Homo sapiens: one gene and its partners. The protein of the gene in region 1 purifies or fractionates together with the protein of each later gene. This does not show direct contact. Each region holds a gene or a part of one and is shown on either strand. Other genes may lie near its edges.

Evidence for each region.
Region 2: the proteins of HAPLN3 (region 1) and MAEA purify together in Homo sapiens (co-immunoprecipitation; 2 studies listed by BioGRID and IntAct, with this or other methods). This does not show direct contact.
Region 3: the proteins of HAPLN3 (region 1) and CHAC2 purify together in Homo sapiens (affinity purification with mass spectrometry; 2 studies listed by BioGRID and IntAct, with this or other methods). This does not show direct contact.

The regions. Positions count from the first base shown.
Region 1 is NC_000015.10:88,885,472-88,892,587, reverse strand, and holds part of HAPLN3 (hyaluronan and proteoglycan link protein 3 isoform 2 precursor), read left to right. Parts: intron 1-3,207; exon of another isoform or gene 3,208-5,162; intron 5,163-5,242; coding exon of another isoform or gene 5,243-5,289; coding exon 5,290-5,413; intron 5,414-7,116. UniProt on the Homo sapiens protein: May function in hyaluronic acid binding.
Region 2 is NC_000004.12:1,313,855-1,320,970, forward strand, and holds part of MAEA (E3 ubiquitin-protein transferase MAEA), read left to right. Parts: intron 1-1,542; coding exon 1,543-1,746; intron 1,747-7,116.
Region 3 is NC_000002.12:53,770,695-53,775,703, reverse strand, and holds the end of CHAC2 (glutathione-specific gamma-glutamylcyclotransferase 2), read right to left. Parts: intron 3,798-5,009; coding exon 3,762-3,797; exon of another isoform or gene 3,760-3,761; coding exon of another isoform or gene 3,757-3,759; intron 1,563-3,756; coding exon 1,179-1,562; 3' UTR 508-1,178; downstream 1-507. UniProt on the Homo sapiens protein: Catalyzes the cleavage of glutathione into 5-oxo-L-proline and a Cys-Gly dipeptide. Acts specifically on glutathione, but not on other gamma-glutamyl peptides.

The DNA of each region.
Region 1 (7,116 bases):
CCTTGGGCCTGTGTGCTGCTCCTCTCTCAGAGAGGCCTGGAAAATGGCCAGCTTCCTCCTGGCCTTTTGTTCTTGGGCACAGGGCTGATCTTTTCTTATAATTCCTTTTGTTTTTCTTTTCTTTTTTTTTTGAGATGCAGTTTCACTCTGTCGCCCAGGCTGGAGTGCAAAGGTGTGATCTCGGCTCACTGCAACCTCTGCCTCCCAGGTTCAAGCAATTCTCCTGCCTCAGCCTCTGGAGTAGCTGGGATTACAGGCACCCACCACCACACCCATCTATTTTTTATATTTTTAGTAGAGACGGGGTTTTACCATGTTGGCCAAGCTGGTCTCAAACTCCTGACCTCAGGTGATCTACCCTCCTTGGCCTCCAAAGTGCTGGGATAACAGGTGTAAGCCACTGTGCCCAGCTAATTCCTTTTGATTTTCTTGGCATCCCCCTCAATGTGAGGTTACATTACTGCTGAGTTAGCATCCAACAAAGAGGTGTTACTGATGTCACTTAGTGGCAGAAACGCCTGCATTTGTTTACCCTTAGGAAGCCCTTTCTCACTAGGGAGCATTTGTGCTAGATGAGCCGCTGTAAGAGGCTGGAAACATTATAAGCAGCAGCTGGGAGCCCCTCTGCTCAAGGAGACTCTAGGTGCCCAGGGACAGCGGGGAGCCCAGGACATCAAGCTCAACATCAAATCTTGGCCCCACTTCCCTCCTGGTTCCAGGTGTGGAGCCTGAAGGAAGGCAGAGGAAACGAACTCTTACAAGGGTTTGCTCTGGGCCACTGGGCTGTGTGTGCCACACAATCACCTCCCTGAATTTGGCATGGTTCCAGGCTTTGGGGCTGGAGTGGGTTCGAATCCTAGCTCTGCCACTTCCTAGCTGGATGACCTTGGGCATATGACTTAGTCTCTCTGTGCCTTGGTTTTTCCATCTGCAAAATGGGAACACTACTAGGCTCACATGTCAGGGTAGTGGTAAGGATTACATGAGAGATACCAGGTGTGGTGGCTCATGCCTGTAATACCAGCACTTTGGGAGGCGGAGGCGGGCAGAACAATTAAGCCCAGGAGTTTGAGACCAGCCTGGGCAACATGGTGAAACCCCATCTCTACTAGAAATACAAAGAATTAGCTGGGTGTGGTGGCACACACCTGTAATCCCAGCTACTTGGGAGGCTGAGGCAGGAGATTCATTTGAACCCAGGAGGCAGAGGTTGCTATGAGCCGAGATCTTACCACTGCACTCCAGCCTGGGCGACAGAGTGAGACTTGGCCTCAAAACAAAAACAAAAATAAAATAAATGAGAGAGTAAGTGCTCAGCTGTTAATACTTTTATACTGATCATAGTAATGCTGTGGTGTGTGTATTTGTTAGGACAAGTGAGGCTAAGCTGTGTTGACAAAGAGATGCAGGCCGGGTGCAGTGGCTCACGCCTGTAATCCCAGCACTTTGGGAGGCCGAGGTGGGCAGATCACCTGAGGTCAGGAGTTCAAGACTAGCTTGGCCAACATGGCGAAACCCCGTCTCTACTAAAAAATTACAAAAATTAGCCTGGTGTGGTGGCAGGTGCCTGTAATCTCAGCTACTCAGGAGGCTGAGGCAGGAAGAATTGCTTGAATCTGGGAGCAGAAGTTGCAGTGAGCCGAGATTGCACCATTGCACTCCAGCCTGGGCGACAGAGTGAGACTTAGTCTCAAAAAAAAAAAGATGCAAAAAAGTGGTGGCTTAAATATGATAGGACTCTGTTTCTCTCTCATAGGACAGTGCAAGTGGAGGAGGTCCAGGGCTGATGGGCAGCTCTGCCATTCAATCTGTGGTTTCCATCTCTGACTCTAAGCTGGATACTGTGGTTTCCAGAAGGTTGGGGGAAGGAATACCAGGGAAAGGCATCTGTAATTGTTTTAACTGCCAGACCTGGATGTGGCATGTTATTTCTGCTTGCTGCCATTGATGAGAACTGAGTCACATAGCTCTCCTAGCTGCGAGGGAGGCTGGAAATGCAGTCTTCAGCTGAACGGTCGTGCACCCATCTAGACCTCTGTTACTTTAGGAGAAAACTAGAATGCATTGGCGAGAAATATACCAGGGTGAGTTTTATGATCTCCATTTCGCAACCGAGGAAACTTGCCCAGAATCTCGCAGTGAATAAATAGTAGAGGTGGGATTTGAACTCTGATCTTCCAGTTCCCAAACTCTGTACCAGGTTGCCCCATTGTGCTTAGGCCTCCCAGTTCTCCATCACCAAGGGGGCTTACAGGAATCAACAGGGGAATGAATTCCTCTTGGACAAGAAGTGGGGTTTCAGAGTTGGTAGTGTCCTGGCTGCAGTGCACAGCACAGATGGCAGGTCTGGGCCTTGGGATTTCTGTGGTGTCTAAGGGAATGGTGGATTTGGCCTCTCAACTTTCTTTACATCCATTCTCTCCAGCAAGAGCTCCTAACTGTTCTGGAAACAAGAATGTTTCCTCCACAATCCCATCACTCTAACAAGCCAATGCTGTGTGTGTCTGCCTGCCTCCTTTCCTCCCTCCTTCCCTTTCCTTCCTTCCTTCCTTTCCTTCCTTCCTCCCCTTCCTCCCTCCCTCCCTCCCTCCCTCCCTTCCTTCTTTCCTTCCTTCCTTTCTCCCTTCTGTCCTCCCTCCCTTCCTCTTTAAGTGTTTCCTCATCTTCTGGGTCCTGTACACAGGCATTCACAAGACCACATGGTTGCAATCATAGCAGAGGCAATTGTATGTTCTGCTTTGTCTATTTTAACTTACACCCTAAGCATTCTTCCACGTTGCTACATGATAATCATAGTTATGTTTGCAGCTGCCTGCTGTCATTCTGGTCTTGCTGCCCCCAGGTCTACCTTCCACTCAGCCCCTGCAGGGAAGTGTCTTAAGATGTGAGTCTGATCCTGTGACTTCTCTGCTTAAAGCCATCACTGGCCTCCAGGACAAAGGATAGACTTCTGGCCAGGTGTGGTGGCTCATGCCTGTAATCCCAGCACTTTGGGAGGCCGAGGTGGGCGGATCACTCGAGGCGAGGAGTTCGAGACCAGCCTGGCTAACATGGTGAAACCCCGTCTCTACAAAAAATACAAAAATTAATGGGGCATGTTGGCGCATGCCTGTAATCCCAGCTACTCGGGAGGCTGAGGCATGAGAATCACTTGAACCCAGGAGACGGAGGTTGCAGTGAGCTCAGATCTTGCCACGGCACTCCAGCTTGGACAACAGAGTGAGATTCTATCTTTAAAAAAAAACAAAACAGGATATGCTTCTGGGCCTGACACCCAAGGCATCCAGACGCTGGCCCTGGTGACCCCCTTACCTCCTCTCCCCCATGCAGCCAGGGTCTTGGCAGGAAGCAGAATTCAGCCCAGATGATTCCAATAAAGAGACTTTAATGGAGGAATGACTTCTAGAGAGTAGGGTGAGGGGACCCAACAAGGAAGTGGGGGACGCAGAGGCCAGCAGCAGCAGCAGACACTCTATGGCAGAGGCACTGGGGTGGCAAGGGAGCTGGGAAGCAATGCCCCGTCTTCCTCCTCTTCCCTCTCTGCCATCTTCTCTGAGTGCCTCCCATTGGCTCAATCCCACTGGAAGCCAGAAGGCCTGGGGAACTGGGACAACAGGGACCAATACGTGTCAGAGAAGGACAGACGATGGACCTGGTGGGTGTGTGGGGCAAATGGAGGACCTCCTGTATACCCCCAGCACCCCCAGGCTTGGGACTCTTGCTGGCATCTGCACCTTTGTAGTGGCAGTGCCCTACTGGATAAACCTGTCAGTCCTTCTCCACCTGGCAAACTCCTGCATCTTCAGTCTCATTTGGACATTCCCGTTTCTGTACCTCCATCGTGGTACTCAACACACAGCAATCAAGACTGCCTGCCCACGACTCTGCCCCCTCCCTGGACCAAGCTCCTTCAAGGAGTGACCCCATCTTTTAATTGTTGAGAGCACGCAGTAAATGGCAGGTGAGCAGGGCTAGGGTGACATGAGTGAGGCAGTAGCCCTTGGTGTGAGATTTAAGCGGGGGAGGAAGGGAGTTTGCTAGAAATCTTAGTAATCAAGACAAAATATTTGAATACAATATTTAAAAAAAAATCAAATCATCAAACTACAGCCCATGGGTTGGCTACCTCTTTTGAGCGCCCACCCAAACTGGAATAGCTCCCAAGACCTCTAGCATGGTGTTCAAAAATTATTTTTGAGTTGGGCGCAGTGGCTTATGCCTGTAATCTCAGCACTTTGGGAGGCCGAGGCGGGCTGATCACTAGGTCAGGAGATTGAGATCATCCTGGCTAACGCGGTGAAACCCCGTCTGTACTAAAATTACAAAAAATTAGCTGAGCTTGGTGGCACGCACCTGTAGTCCCAGCTACTCGGGAGGCTGAGGCAGGAGAATTTCTTGAACCCAGGAGGCGGAGGTTGCAGTGAGCAACCTCCACTCCAGCCTGGGCGACAGAGCGAGACTCTGTCTCAAAAAAAAAAAAAAAGGGTTCACAATGCAGGACTCATCTTTACTTAACATACCCTCTATTCACCCTGATATTTTCTATTCTAGTCTAGTTTATTTGGCGTCATTAAAAAGTGCTGCTCATACCTTTCTTTTCTTTTCTTTCTTTTTTCTTTTTTTTGAGATAGAGTTTCACTCTTGTTGCCCAGGCTGGAGTGCAATGGCATGATCTTGGCTCACCACAACCTCTGCCTCCTGGGTTCAAGCGATTCTCCTGCCTCAGCCTCCCGAGTAGCTGGGATTACAGACATGTGACACCATGCCTGGCTAATTTTGTATTTTTAGTAGAGACGGGGTTTCTCCATGTTGGCCAGGCTGGCCTCAAACTCCCAACCTCAGGTGATCCGCCCGCCTCAGCCTCCCAAAGTCCTGGGATTATAAGCGTGAGCCACCATGCCCAGCCTGCCCATAACCTTTCAAATTCTGGCTTGAAAAACATTGAGCCTGTCATATCATCCTGCTTAATTTTCTCTGCTTTTAGCTGCCTGATACTTCCTTCTTATGATTTGTCTCTTTGCTGATCTCCCGTCTTGCCTTCGGGGTACAGCTCCCTGAAAGCAGGAACCCCATCTAGCTTGTCACTGCTGTCTTCTCAGCTCCGGGAACAGCGTCTGGCACGTAGGCGGCAGGTGTCCCGCAGTGAGCTGTTGAGCAAGCGAGTGAGTGGTGTTGGAGCAGAGGGGATGTGGGCCCTGGAAGCCAGGCTTTTCTAATTGCCTTGTTTTCCTCCCCTTCCCAGTTTGCCCTGGGGCCCCAGCCTGGCCCGGGTCACCCTGGCATGAGGAGATGGGCCTGTTGCTCCTGGTCCCGTTGCTCCTGCTGCCCGGCTCCTACGGACTGCCCTTCTACAACGGCTTCTACTACTCCAACAGCGCCAACGACCAGAACCTAGGCAACGGTCATGGCAAAGGTAGGCGACCTCCTGCACCCGGCTCTTTGCTCCCCTGGGTGACCTAGACCTCCTTGGCTCTTGCTGTGATCTGAGGGTTCCAGGCTGGGACAGGGACAGCAGCCCTGTTCCAGCAGGGCCCTTGTAGTGGGCCAGCTTGCTTCTCAGACAGGGGAAGGGGTGAGTTCATTTTCCTGTGTTCGCCAGCCCCTTCGTCATGGGGCCCAATTCACTTAGGCTTTTTACTTTCCCTAAAAGTCTTGCCAGTTGTTCAAGGTCCAGCTTGAATGTGTCCTCCCCTGGTCCCCCCAGTGGAAAGGGGACCTGGGGTCGAATAGATGTGAGTTTGAATGTTTTTTTTGTTTGTTTTTGAGATAAAGTCTCACTCTGTTGCCGAGGCTGGAGTGCAATGGCACGATCTCGGCTCACTGCAACCTCTGCCTCCCGGGTTCAAGCGATTCTCCTGCCTCGGCCTCCCGAGTAGCTGGGATTACAAGCATGTGCCACCATGCCTGGCTACTTTTTGTATTTTTAGTAGAGAAGGGGTTTCACCATGTTGGCCAGGCTGGTCTTGAACTCCTGACCTCAGGTGATCCACCTGCCTCGACCTCCCAAATTGCTGGGATTACAGGCATAAGCCACCATGCCTGGCCCGAGTTTGAATCTTATAATTCTACCTCTTACTAGCTGTGTGGCCTTGGGCAGGGAACGTTTTAAAGTAGCAGTTATTGTGCACCCAACATGGGTTGGGCGCGCTTCTAGATATTTTGCATATGTCGTCTCCTGTAATCACAAAAGCCCTGATGTAGGCAAGGGTGAAAATATACCTTTTTTTTTTTTTTTTTAAGATGGAGTCTCACTTTGTTGTCCAGGCTGGAGTGCAGTGGCGCGATCTTGGCTCACTGCAGCCTCTGCCTCCCAGGTTCAAGCGATTCTCCTGCCTCAGCCTCCCAAGCAGCTGGGATTACAGGCATCTGCCACCACACCTGGCTAATTTTTGTACTTTTAGTAGAAATGGGGGTTTCTCCATGTTGGCCAGGCTGGTCCTGAACTCTTGACCTCAGGTGATCCACCCGCCTCAGCCTCCCAAAATGCTGGGATTACAGGCGTGAGCCAACGAGCCTTGCCGAAAATACACATTTTTAACCATTAGTGCAGCACGGGTGCTGACCAGGCTGAATTGATGCTGTCTGCCCTCACAGCCTGAAAGTAGATTCTATTATCATCCCTTCTCATAGATGAGCAAACTAGGCTCAGAGAGTTGATCCAGTTGTCCAGGTCAAACAGCTATTAAAAAGACAAAGCTGAGGGCTGGGTGCAGTGGCTCATGCCTATAATCCCAGCACTTTGGGAGACTGAGGTGAGTGGATCACTTGAGGTCAGGAGTTCAAGGCCAGCCTGGCCAACATACCGAAACCCTCTACTAAAGATACAAAAAATTGGCCAGGCGCGGTGACTCACACCTGTAATCCCAGCACTTAAGGAGGCCGAGGTGGATGGATCACGAGGTCAAGAGATCAAGACCATTCTGACCAACCTGGTGAAATCCTGTCTCTACTAAAAATACAAAAGTAGCCGGGCGTGGTGGCAGGTGCCTTTAATCCCAGCTTCTCAGGAGGCTGAGGCAGGAGAATTGCTTGAACCTGGGAGGCAGAGGTTGCAGTGAGCTGAGATCATACCACTGCACTCCAGCCTGAACGACAAAGTGAGACTCCGTCTCAAAA
Region 2 (7,116 bases), on another chromosome or scaffold:
CAACATGGCAAAACCCCATCTCTACAAAAAATAGCCAGGCGTGGTGACACACACCTGTAGTCTCAGCTAATTGGGAGGCTGAGGCAGGAGAATCGCTTGAGCCCAGGAGGTCGAGGTTGTAGTGAGCAGAGATTGTGTCACTGTACTCCAGACTGGGCAACAGAGTGAGACACTGTCTTAAAAAAGTGATTGGGCAGGCACAGTGGCTCACGCCTGCAATCCCAGCACTTTGGGAGGCCAAGGCAGGCGGATCACCTGAGGTCAGGAATTCAAGACCAGCCTGGCCAACATGGCGAAACCCCGTCTCTATTAAAAATACAAAAAAATTAGCCGGGCATGGTGTACGCCTGTGGTCCCAGCTACTCGGGAGGCTGAGGCAGGAGAATCACTTGAACCCAGGAGCTGGAGGTTGCAGTGAGCTGAGATCGCACCACTGCACTTCAGCCTGCACAGAGACTCTGTCTCCAAAAAAAAAAAAAAATTCAGAATTTAAAAGGGACTAAAATTTCAAGAAATGGGAAATATAATAACCAAAAATGAAAAACTCAACATTTGCCTATAACAGTTTAACAGTTAACAGACAAAGCTAAAGACAGAATTAGTGAACTGGAGGGTGATCGAGAATGGAGCACAGAGACTGAAAAATCAAAGTGGCTGCGAGAGTAAAGCATGGAATAGAGCAGAAACCTGTGGCATGTTTCACCAGAGCCCACCAGTGGGTGGGGACAGAGATGGTGCGGGGAGAGTGACCAAGGTTTCAGAACTGATGAGTACCACCAGGTCAGAATCCGACACAGAGTAAGTGAAAATAAACCGACATGGGATTTTCCCGTGGTGGAACTGAAGAAAACAGAGACAAAGAAATATTTGAAAAGCTCCTGAGGGCAAAAGATGACTTCCAAAGGGGCAACAGACAGCCGGACAGCTGATTTCTGCACAGCAGTTGGAAGCCAAAATTGGTAGAATGTGCTGAAAGAAGCCAGCCCGGATCCTGGATCTGTCCAGTAGTCAGTCGCCGTGTGTGCTGTCAAATTTTTAGCGAAGAATTCAGTTCCTCAGTTGCACCACTGCCCTTAAGTGTGTGGCAGCCACGTGGGCTGGTGGCAGCTGTGTTGGGCAGCACAGGCCTGGAACGTTTCTATCTAGCCCGATTCATTTTTAACAAAATTGACTTTAAGAAAAAAAGTATTGCAAAAGATTTTTTTAAAGTCACCTTATAATGATAAACAGTTTAACCAGAAAGGCATAGCAAATTTGAAATTGTATGCATCTGGCAACATGGCTTCAGGGTATATTAATATAAAGCCAGAAATAGCAGAGAGAAGCTGCAGATCCAGGGTGGTGGATTTTCACTGCCTCCGTCTGCAGCTCTTGGGCCAGGCACACCTGCCTAGCGGACTCGGTAGAGCACGGTTTTTTTTCTGTCCCGTAATCCCTGCTTTTCTCCTTGTGAGTGTTGTGGATTGGGGCAGCCTGGCCTCCCTTGGTGCAGGGCTGCGGGGCATCCCTGTCCTGAACGTGCCTCTGTTGTGTGTGGCTCAGGCGGTGGAATCCATCCAGGCCGAGGACGAGAGCGCCAAGCTGTGCAAGCGCCGGATCGAGCACCTCAAAGAGCATAGCAGCGACCAGCCCGCGGCGGCCAGCGTGTGGAAGAGGAAGCGCATGGATCGCATGATGGTGGAGCACCTGCTGCGTTGCGGCTACTACAACACGGCTGTCAAGCTGGCGCGCCAGAGCGGCATCGAGGTGGGTGCCCGCCAGACGCAGGCACAGCGCCCCAGCTGGCCCCAGGCCTATGGCCAGCCGCCCTGTGGCATGTCCCCCGGCATGCCTGTGTCCCTACATGCTTGTGTTCCCCTCCCCCCACCCCCGTATGCTTGTGTTCCCCTCCCCCCACCCCCGTGTGCGTGTGTCCCCCCTCCAGTGTGTGTGTGTGTCCCCCTCCCCGTGTGCGTGTCCCCCTCCCCCCATGTGCATGTCCCCACCCCTGTGTGCGTGTGTCCCCTTCCCGTGTGTGTGCCCCCCCCCCCCCAATGTGCGTGTTTCTCCCCCACCCCGTGTGTGTGTCTGCGCTGTGGTGAGGGCCTCCTCCCCAGCTGAGAGGCCCTGACCCTTTGTGGAAACGCACCTGGGACTTAGCCTTCTGAAGGCAGGAAGTCAGTGTCTAAGCGGCTCTCCAGGTTCTTCTCATTTCCCTGTGGTGTCTGCACACATCCTGCTTAGGATTTTCCCGCCCGATACCTGTACCCCGGGTTTTGCGCTGACACATGCTCCATTGCTTCCTCGTGAGAGCTTTGCCTTTATCTCAGGCGGGGTGCGTTTTCCGTGTTTTCTGTGGCACCCTGTAGAAACACGTGGCACCCTTGCCCTCTGTGGCTACAGCTGAGCAGACGCTGGGCGGTGCTGCCCTCTGGCACCTTTGGGCCAGGTTAGCTGGGGCGGCCTCTCTGCCATCGGGCAGTTGTCCACTGCTGTGGGGGCCCATGGCAGTTGGAGCCTCCCAGACCAGCACTTGGGCCCGTCGCCCTTGCCCCTGTCCAGATCCTGCTGTGGGAGCACAGCCTCACCTGACTCGGGTTAAGGTGGCGTCCGTGTTCCATTTGACTGAGATGACAACACTTGAGAACCTCTCAGGCAGGACTTGTGCGAGAGGATTGTGCCCCATGGCCCTGTCCCGGGCCCAGCCTCCCCATGCCCAGCCATGCGCCTGGCCCCACAGGCCTCCCTCCCATGCTGCTCCCTGCCACGGCTCCTCAGCCCACCTCCTCCCTGCTTCTGTCTAACCAGGGGTCTTCTCTCTTTCCACGGCTTAAATCCCACCCACATGTGTGTGGCTCCCACCTGGGGCATCATGGGCCTCAGCCCTGGCTGAATTCAACCCCAGCACAAGGCTCCCTTCCCAGCCTTGGAGGCGGCCTCACATTGTGCAGTCCAAGGCCTCGGGTGCCCATGGGGCCACACTCACGCCCCCATGCAGCCATCTGCACGCCCTGCTGGCTTGCAGCCTCCCCCACACTCCTGTCACGCTCCTGCCCAGCTCCCCAGCCTTGCGGCACTCCAGACTCACCCCCAGGCCCACCCGGCCCCACACTCCAGACTCACCTGCAGGCCCACCACGGCCCCACACTCTAGACTCACCCCCAGGCCCACCCCGGCCCCCACACTCCAGACTCACCTGCAGGCCCACCCGGTCCCACACTCCAGACTCACCCCCAGGCCCACCCCGGCCCCCACACTCCACACTCACCTGCAGGCCCACCCGGTCCCACACTCCAGACTCACCCGCAGGCCCACCCCAGCCCCCACACTCCAGACTCACCTGCAGGCCCACCCCAGCCCCCACACTCCAGACTCACCCGCAGGCTCACCCCAGCCCCCACACTCCAGACTCACCCGCAGGCCCACCCCAGCCCCCACACTCCAGACTCACCTGCAGGCCCACCCGGCCCCACACTCCAGACTCACCCGCAGGCCCCACACTCTGGACTCATCTGCAGGCCCCACACTCCGGACTCATCTGCAGGCCCCACACTCCGGACTCACCCGCAGACCCACCTGGCCCCACCCTCTTGCTGGCTCTTGTCCTCGGCATTTGTCCCGCACCTCGTTCACCTTCTCTCAGATGCTGCCCTGGGTGGAGCGGCACCCTCCCACCCATGCCTTCTCCCCACTGCTGCACAGCCTCCCTGCTTGTGTGTGTGTGTGGTGTCCGTCCTGCCCTCCAGGAGGGGAGTGGCGAGCAGCTGCCCAGTGGGCAGGGTGAGCGAGTGAGTCCTCGTGTCCTGGAGGCCCTCATCTGCCCAGACCTGCACAGCACTGTTGCTCTCGGCACCGCTGGGGTATGGCGTCTCGGTTCACAAGCGTGAATGTGATGTGTCACAGCTGTGCCATGAGTTGATCTGCCAGATGGCAAAGTGCACTGATCCTCTGCGGTGACCGGGGCTGGTGCCCCTGGGTGCCCTGCAGTCTTGTTGAGTTTCCGAAGTCTCCAGGTCATGACTCGCAGCCACTCCAGTGTGCACCCAACATTCTCATCGCTGGACGGGGTCGTCTGTGATGCCTCTGCCGTGCTGCCCACTGGGCTGCTGTGGCCCCCATCTGGTGCCATTTTTCCTCCACCTGGGTGTCAGGGAAGGGCATTCTCACCTGCACCTGCCCAGGCTCATGTGACGGACAGTGGGCCAGCACATGTCCGCTCCGGTGCCCTGTCCCACATGCCTTTCCCACCCACCCGCCTCCCTGGCCCCGTGTGCCCGGCTTCCCCCAATGCACAGGCCCTCGCTCCGTGCTGCCCACATGTCCTGGCTGCCTGGGGCGGCCCCCCGTGTGTTCATAGATGACCTAGCCATCCTCTCCTAAACGCCCAGCACACTGTCCTTGGGACCCATGGGGTGTGACCAAGCAACCTGGCGGTGGCTGCTGAAGCATGAGCTGTGGGTGCCCCTGGCCCCAGGGAATGTGCGCTGTGTTGGGGGAGAGAGACGTGAAGTGAAAGAAGGGGGTCCTGTGGTGGGCACAGGCCACGCGTTCCACAGAAGTGCGTAGAGCAGGGTGGATATGGGAGTGCTGATGATTCTAAGGCCAGTTGGAGTAGGCCTCAGCAGGGTGAGACGGGCTACACTCAAGGTGTTGGGGTGCCCTGAGCATGTCTGTCCAAAAGAGGGCCTGGAGCTGCTGTGTGGAAGAAGGCGGGCGTGTGGAGCCCATGAGGACTGGGTTGCGGGGGAGGGGTTCTTTCTGCTGAGATGCTCCGGAGGGCGTTGAGCTGAGGAATCGCTTTTGACCACAGGTGACCATGGCACTAGGAAGCCCTGGGGAAGGTGCTGCTGTGGCCGAGGGGGAGCTGCCAGGTTGTGGAAATGTAAACCCCGGCTGCGCTGGTCAGACCTGGACTTCCTGTAGGGGGCGCCATGGAATTCCCACGTGGGACCCCAGTTTCCTACCTGTGCACCAAAATTCCTGTGCACCAAAATTGGAGACGTGACAAACTTAGGAAAATAACCTCATGCTCTGGATTGGAGCAAGGTCCCAGACAATACAGGACAGGAAGCTGCTGCCAAGGGAAGGCCACCCAGGAACAGGACAGGAAGCTGCTGCCCAGGGAAGGCCACACAGGAACAGGACAGGAAGCCTGCTGCCGAGGGAAGGCTGCCCAGGAGGGGCAGAACAGAGTCCTCAGTGTGGCTGGTGCTGTGCGCCTGCCTGTGCTGCCTTAGGCTGGACGCAGGGCTCTCAACCCGTAATCCTAGCACTCTGGGAGGCTGAGGCGAGCGGATCTGTTGAGCCCAGGAGTTTGAGACCAGCCTGGGCAGCAAAGTGAGAACCCTTCTCTACAAATTTTTTTTCAAATTAGCTGGGAGTGTTGGTGGGTGCCTGGGGTCCCAGCTACTCTGGAGGCTGCAGTGGGAGGATCACTTGAGCCCAGGAGGTGGAGGCTGCAGTGAGCCAAGATTGCACCACTGCACTCCAGCCTGGGCAACAGGACAACACCCTGTCTCAAAACAAACAAAAGTCAGCATGAGCATTTCGTGTGAGACAGAAAACCAGTTCACTTAGATGGTTTCTAGTTTCAGTTGACGTACGAGCCTGCTGCCAGCTGGCCTCACATCTTTCATGTGACTCTCACAACCGGAGACCCGGACATTGGAGAAACCCTCAGTAAGAGAGATCCAACTGGGTTCAGACCCCGAGGCTGTGTTGACGGGACATGAGGCAGGATATAGACCAGGAGCCACCTCCTGAAATTTAGAGCAAAACTACAAAACAAGGCCTTTGGGAGACCAGGGTGGGAGCATCACTTGAGCCCAGGAATTTGAGGCAACAGTGAGCCATGATCTCACCACTGTATTCCATCCAGTCTGGACAAGAGAGCGAGACCCTGTCTCAAAAAAAAAAAAATGGTTTTTCAAGTTGCAAAACAAAGTAAGACTTTGTGGGAGACCCAACATTCGCCTGCCCTGAAGGGGCTTCAGAAAAGAAATCATCAAAGCAAACATGCAAGAAAACACTATGAAGGGGCTCCAGAAAAGAATCATCAAAGCAAACATGCAAGAAAACGCTATGAAGGGGCTTCAGAAAAGAATCATCAAAGCAAACATTCAAGAAAACGCTATGAAGGGGCTTCAGAAAAGAATCATCAAAGCAAACATGCAAGAAAACGCTATGAAGGGGCTCCAGAAAAGAAATCATCAAAGCAAACATGCAAGGAAACGCTATGAAGGGGCTTCAGAAAAGAAATCATCAAAGCAAACATGCAAGAAAACGCTATGAAGGGGCTTCAGAAAAGAATCATCAAAGCAAACATGCAAGAAAACACTATGAAGGGGCTTCAGAAATCATCAGAACAAACGTGCAAGAAAACACTATGAAGGGGCTTCAGAAAAGAAATCAAAGCAAACGTGCAAGAAAACTCTATGACGGGGCTTCAGAAAAGAAATCAAAGCAAACGTGCAAGAAAATGCTATGAAGGGGCTTCAGAAAAGAAATCATCAAAGCAAACATGCAAGAAAATGCTATGAAGGGGCTTCAGAAAAGAATCATCAACATGCAGGAAAACGCTGTGAAGGGGCTTTAGAAAGAAATTATCAAAGCAAATATGCAAGAAAACGCTATGAAGGGGCTTCAGAAAAGAAATCATCAAAGCAAACATGCAAGAAAACGCTATGAAGGGGCTTCAGAAAAGAAATCATCAAAGCAAACCTGCAAGAAAATGCTATGAAGGGGCTTCAGAAAAGAAATCAAAGCAAACGTGCAAGAAAACGCTATGGAGGGGCATCAGAAAAGAAATAATCAAAGCAAACGTGCAAGAAGACACTATGAAGGGGTTTCAGAAAAGAAATCATCAACATGAACATGCAAGAAGACGCTATGAAGGGGCTTCAGAAAAGAAATCATCAAAGCGAACATGCAAGAAAACGCTATGAAGGGGCTTCAGAAAAGAAATCATCAAAGCAAACATGCAAGAGGCCGGGCACGGTGGCTCACGCCTGTAATCCCAGCACTCTGGGAGGCCAAGGTGGGCAGATCACGAGTTCAGGAGATCGAGACCATCCTGGCTAACACGGTGAAACCCTGTCTCTACTAAAAATACAAAAATTTAGCCGGGCGTGGTGGCAG
Region 3 (5,009 bases), on another chromosome or scaffold:
AGGAGATCGAGACCAGCTTGGCCAACATGGTGAAACCCCGTCTCTACTAAAAATACAAAAATTAGCCGGGCGTGGTGGCACATGCCTGTAATCCCAGCTACGCGGGAGGCTGAGGCAGGAGAATTCCTTGAACCTGGGAGGTGAAGGCTGCAGTGAGCTGAGGTTGGCACCACTGCACTCCAGCCTAGGCAACAGAGCGATACTCCGTCTCAAAAAACAAAACAAAATTATAATTCCAGGAGGTGCCTGTTCTTGGCTTCTGCCAGAGGTTACACTTTCCAGCCTGTGGGATGGCCAGACGCAGGCTGCAAAGAAAAAAAAAATTTTATATGTATATATATGTATATACACACACACACACACAAATTGAGATAGTGACAGACAAAGAATTCCAAAAGCTGTTTTAAAAACTAAATTTTCATTATATGTGCCATTAATTTGTAGTATCAGCCCATCTTTTTCAGTTTTGGTATAAGATTAATACAAAGTGAATGACAGACTACATCATTAGTGATCATGATTTGTATAATGTAATTTATGCTTTAGTGAGTTATTTTCCATATAGTAAAATGCCTTTATTTAAAAAAGAAGAGGTACAGTACATTATAATTCCAAGGAAATTTTCGTATTTTAAAAATGCCAATTTTTGGCTAAAAACTCAAAAGATTTCATTTAATACTTGAATAACAAGGAAATTCACAATTAAGGCTGAAATACTGTTCATATTATTGTGTATTTCTAAGCATGTTATTTTAAGCTTGTGTATTTTAAACCATGGTTACAGAATTGTATAGGAATATATTGAAGGCATAACCTTATATTTATTGGAATTTTGGTTTAATTGTTTAGAATTTCAAAATAGTATTGGGATGTGAAACAGGATGATTATCACTCTGATAAAAACAAGACTGAACTGAGTCCTTCACTGTATTTTTCTAAAGAACTCACTTCTAGTGAGTAAGTGTTCAATAACATAAAGTTAGGAAATCTTTATGTTATTAAAATTTGAATTTTTCTTTCACTGTATCCCAATATTTTAAATATGTGTTTCAGGACATTTCCAGTTAAAATAAAAGTTTAAATAATATCCTCACTACATTAAAAATAAGATCTTTAAGTAAACGTATTTCCAAATCATATTGTCATTGTGCACTGAAGTTAATTCTCTGAAGACTAAATTATATGCAATTGAGGTTCTGTTTCCCTTCTAAACGTTCCTTTACTAATTTTTCCAAAGCGAAAAGATGCTCATCTGCTTCTTCTGGCACAAGGTTCCTAATAGAATTTGCAAGTTCAAAAAGATATTCTGTATTTCTTCCACTTGGACCAGCTGCATTAAAAATTTGTTCAGCAATGTCTTCCAGAGGTGCAGGACCAAGATAATCAGGATTATCACATGTTCCAATATATAGCAATACACTGAATGGTTTTGTTGTGGGATCTTTTGGATAAAAAATGACTGTTGTGGTTCTGTAGCCTCCTTTTTCTCTGAAGTCAAGGTATGCTTTTACTTCTTCTTCCTTTCCTACTGGCAATCTGTAAGCAACACCCCATACACATCCCTGTTGAAAAATGAAAAGAATACACTGGTATTATAAGGCTAATTAAAATAGGTGAAGAAAGGTTGTGATCTAAGGGAGTATCTCATATATTCTTTTCTGTTTGTTTTTGAGATGAAGTCTTGTCTGTTGCCCAGGCTGTGGTGCAGTGGCACGATCGTGGCCTACTGCAACCTCAGCCTCCCGGGTTCAAGCTATTCTCCTGCCTCAGCCTCTCAAGTGACTGGGATTACAGGAATGCACCACCATGCCCAGCTAATTTTTGTATTTTTAGTAGAGAAGGGGTTTTGTCACGTTGGCCAGGCTGGTCTCAAACTCCTGACCTCAAGTGATCCACCTGCCTCGGCCTCCCAGTGTGCTGGGATTACAGGTGTGAACCACCATGCCTGCCTGTATCTTGTATATTTTTAAAAGTGGGCCAGGAGCGGTGGCTCACGCCTGTAATACCAGCACTTTGGGAGGCCGAGGTGAGTGGATCACGAGGTCAGGAGTGGAAGACCAGCCTGGCCAAGATGGTGAAACCCCGTCTTTACTAAAAATACAAAAATTAGTCAGGCACAGTGGCAGGCACTTGTAATCCCAGCTACTCAGGAGGCTGAGGCAGGAGCATTGCTTGAACCCGGGTGGCAGAGGTGGCAGTGAGCCGAGATCATGCCACTGAACTCAAGCCTGGGTTATAGAGTGAGACTGTCTCAAAAAAATAAAAAATAAATAAAAGTCAATACAGTTTTTCTTCACTTAAAGTGCACAGAAGAACATACTAAACAATAAAGGAAATAAGCACTTTAAAATCTCCATTGTGAATAATTTCTTTGTATCATAGGCACAGCAAGATATTTTATCTTAAAAAAATTTTTTTTTAATTTGGTCTTTTTCTTTAATAACGGGACTGAAATGAAAAATATGAGCCTTTCACTTGGTCATTAAAAAATTCTAGAAACAAAGTGCCATTTGTTTATTAACTGTTTAATTAGGAGTTATAAGTTACCAATTTGAAGATCTTTTTTATAAATGCTTTTCGTAGTATCAATTATGAAAGCATTTCCTAATCCACACCATTATTTATCTGCCATTACTAACTGCTTGATTTTTGTTTATTAAAGTCCTTTCCAAAGTTAAACATTTAATTTCACAATATAAAATTCTGAATCTGTACCCCAATAAAATGACTGAAAATATTTAAGAAACTGAGGATTGTTGGTTAAATAAAACTTTCTGGTGCTCCAAACCAGTTTTAAAATCACAGGTTCTACTGGGGTCTACGGGAGGGTGGAGGGTGGGAGGAGGGAGAGGATCTAGAAAAATAACTAATTGATACTAGGCTTAATGTTAATACCTGGGTGATGAAATAATCTGTACAACAAACCCCCATGACACATGTTTACCTATGTAACAAACTTGCACATCCTGCACATGTACTCCTGAACTTAAAAACAAAAACACAAAACACAACACACAGGTGCTATTGATACAATTAAGCAATAAAGAAAATAAGAATTCCTCACTTAGATTTCTGCTGAAAATGAGACTGGTAGCAAAAGTGAAGAGAGCTTTTAAGGGTTCCATTTAATTCTCGGTGGTAGTCTGGCTGTCGGGGGCAGGTATTTCCGTTAATGTCAAAGGGGACCACAAAATTCTTAGTTAATAAACTTGTTTTTAAAAAAATCCCACGGCTGGGCGCGGTGGCTCATGCCTGTAATCCCAGCACTTTGGGAGGCCAAGGCGGGCGGATCACGAGGTCGGGAGATTGAGACCATCCTGGCTAACACGGTGAAACCTCGTCTCTACTAAAAATACAAAAAATTAGCCAGACATGGTGGCGGGCGCCTGTAGTCCCAGCTACTTGGGAGGCTGAGGCAGGAGAATGGCGTGAACCCGGGAGGCGGAGCTTGCAGTGAGCCGAGATCGCGCCACTGCACTCCAGCCTGGGCGACAGAGCTAGACTCTGTCTCAAAAAACCCCACAAAAACGAAAACTACATGCTATTTGTCTGTACGTTGTTGTCTACCTTGCACTCTGCATTCTAACTTTTCTTATTGGCCTCAGTTTTCACAAACACAAAAAAAACCCACAAATACAGAGAAGAATTCTAAATTTAGGGTAGTTCAAATTGTCTGTGATGATTGTTAATCAAATTGAAACAGAAACATCGCAACATTTTATAAAATTAAAATTATACAAAAAAGAATATTTATACCATACCGCAGGATCTTCAACAAGAGTCACAACTCTTCCAGGCTGTTTTAAAAAGGTAAAAAAAAATTTTTCTGAATTAATAAAGTTCATTAAGTAGCTGAGCATTAGCAACATTTTTGACATGGAATATTTGAATTATATTTGCTCATAAGAAGCACTATTTCTTAAGCATAGTTATTTTTTATGATAAAGCTTAAGTGAATTAAGAGAACCTACCTTATCTAGAGACTGTGTTGGCCTTTCTAAAAGATTTCCATCAATTTATACGTATTAGGTATATTATATTCACTTTACATGGATATATTGGAAAACATACCAGTAACTAAAGGTCATCTAAAATGAAAGGCAAATGGAAGCAGTAATTATAAATATTCTGGTTTTTCCCTTAAGGAAAAAAGAATGTTATAGTTTTATTTATTTATTTATTTATTTTTTGAGACGGAGTTTTGCTCAACAAGCCCAGGCTGGAGTGCAGTGGTGCGATCTTGGCTCACTGCAACCTCCAACTCTCGGGCTCAAGCAATTCTCTCACCTCAGCCTCCTGAGTAGTTGGGATTACAGGTGCCCGCCAAGACACCCAGCTAATTTTTGTATTTTTAGTAGAGACGGGTTTACCATGTTGGCCAGGCTGGTATGGAACTCCTGACCTTAGGTAATCCACCCGTCTCGGCCTCCCAAAGTGCTGGGATTACAGGCGTGAGCCACCGCACCCGGCCTATAGTTTTATTAGGGGAAAAAAAATATGACATAAAGGGTGCTTTCCTATATATAGGGAAGTGACTTTCAAATTTAGTGGATCAAAATGACCTAGAGGGCTTGACAAAGACATTGTTAGGCCACACCTCCAGAGTTTTTGATTCTGTAGGTCTGGAGCTGTCTAAGAATTTGCATTTGTAACAACTTTCCTGCTGATTTCAGAAATTGTTCTGGGGCTCATACTTTAAGAACCACTGCTACCAGGGGATATTAAGAGGTTTTAAGTGAGAGAGAATGAGTGATTTACACTTCTGAGTTATGAAGTGTTCTTACCTTTCTGTATATGGTAATGGTGCTTCAAGGTAGGCATTTCTTTTACATTCATAAATGAACTTTACTTTGCCCTATTTAAAGGTCAGTATTAGAACTGGCCTATTCGTGTAGTTCTTATATGGGACAATCAGACCACTTGTGTTCTAGGCAATTTTATTTTCCCATTTTGGTTTTAACACAGGTCAGTTAACAATATTATGGAAAGCTTCACTTTTTACTATTCAA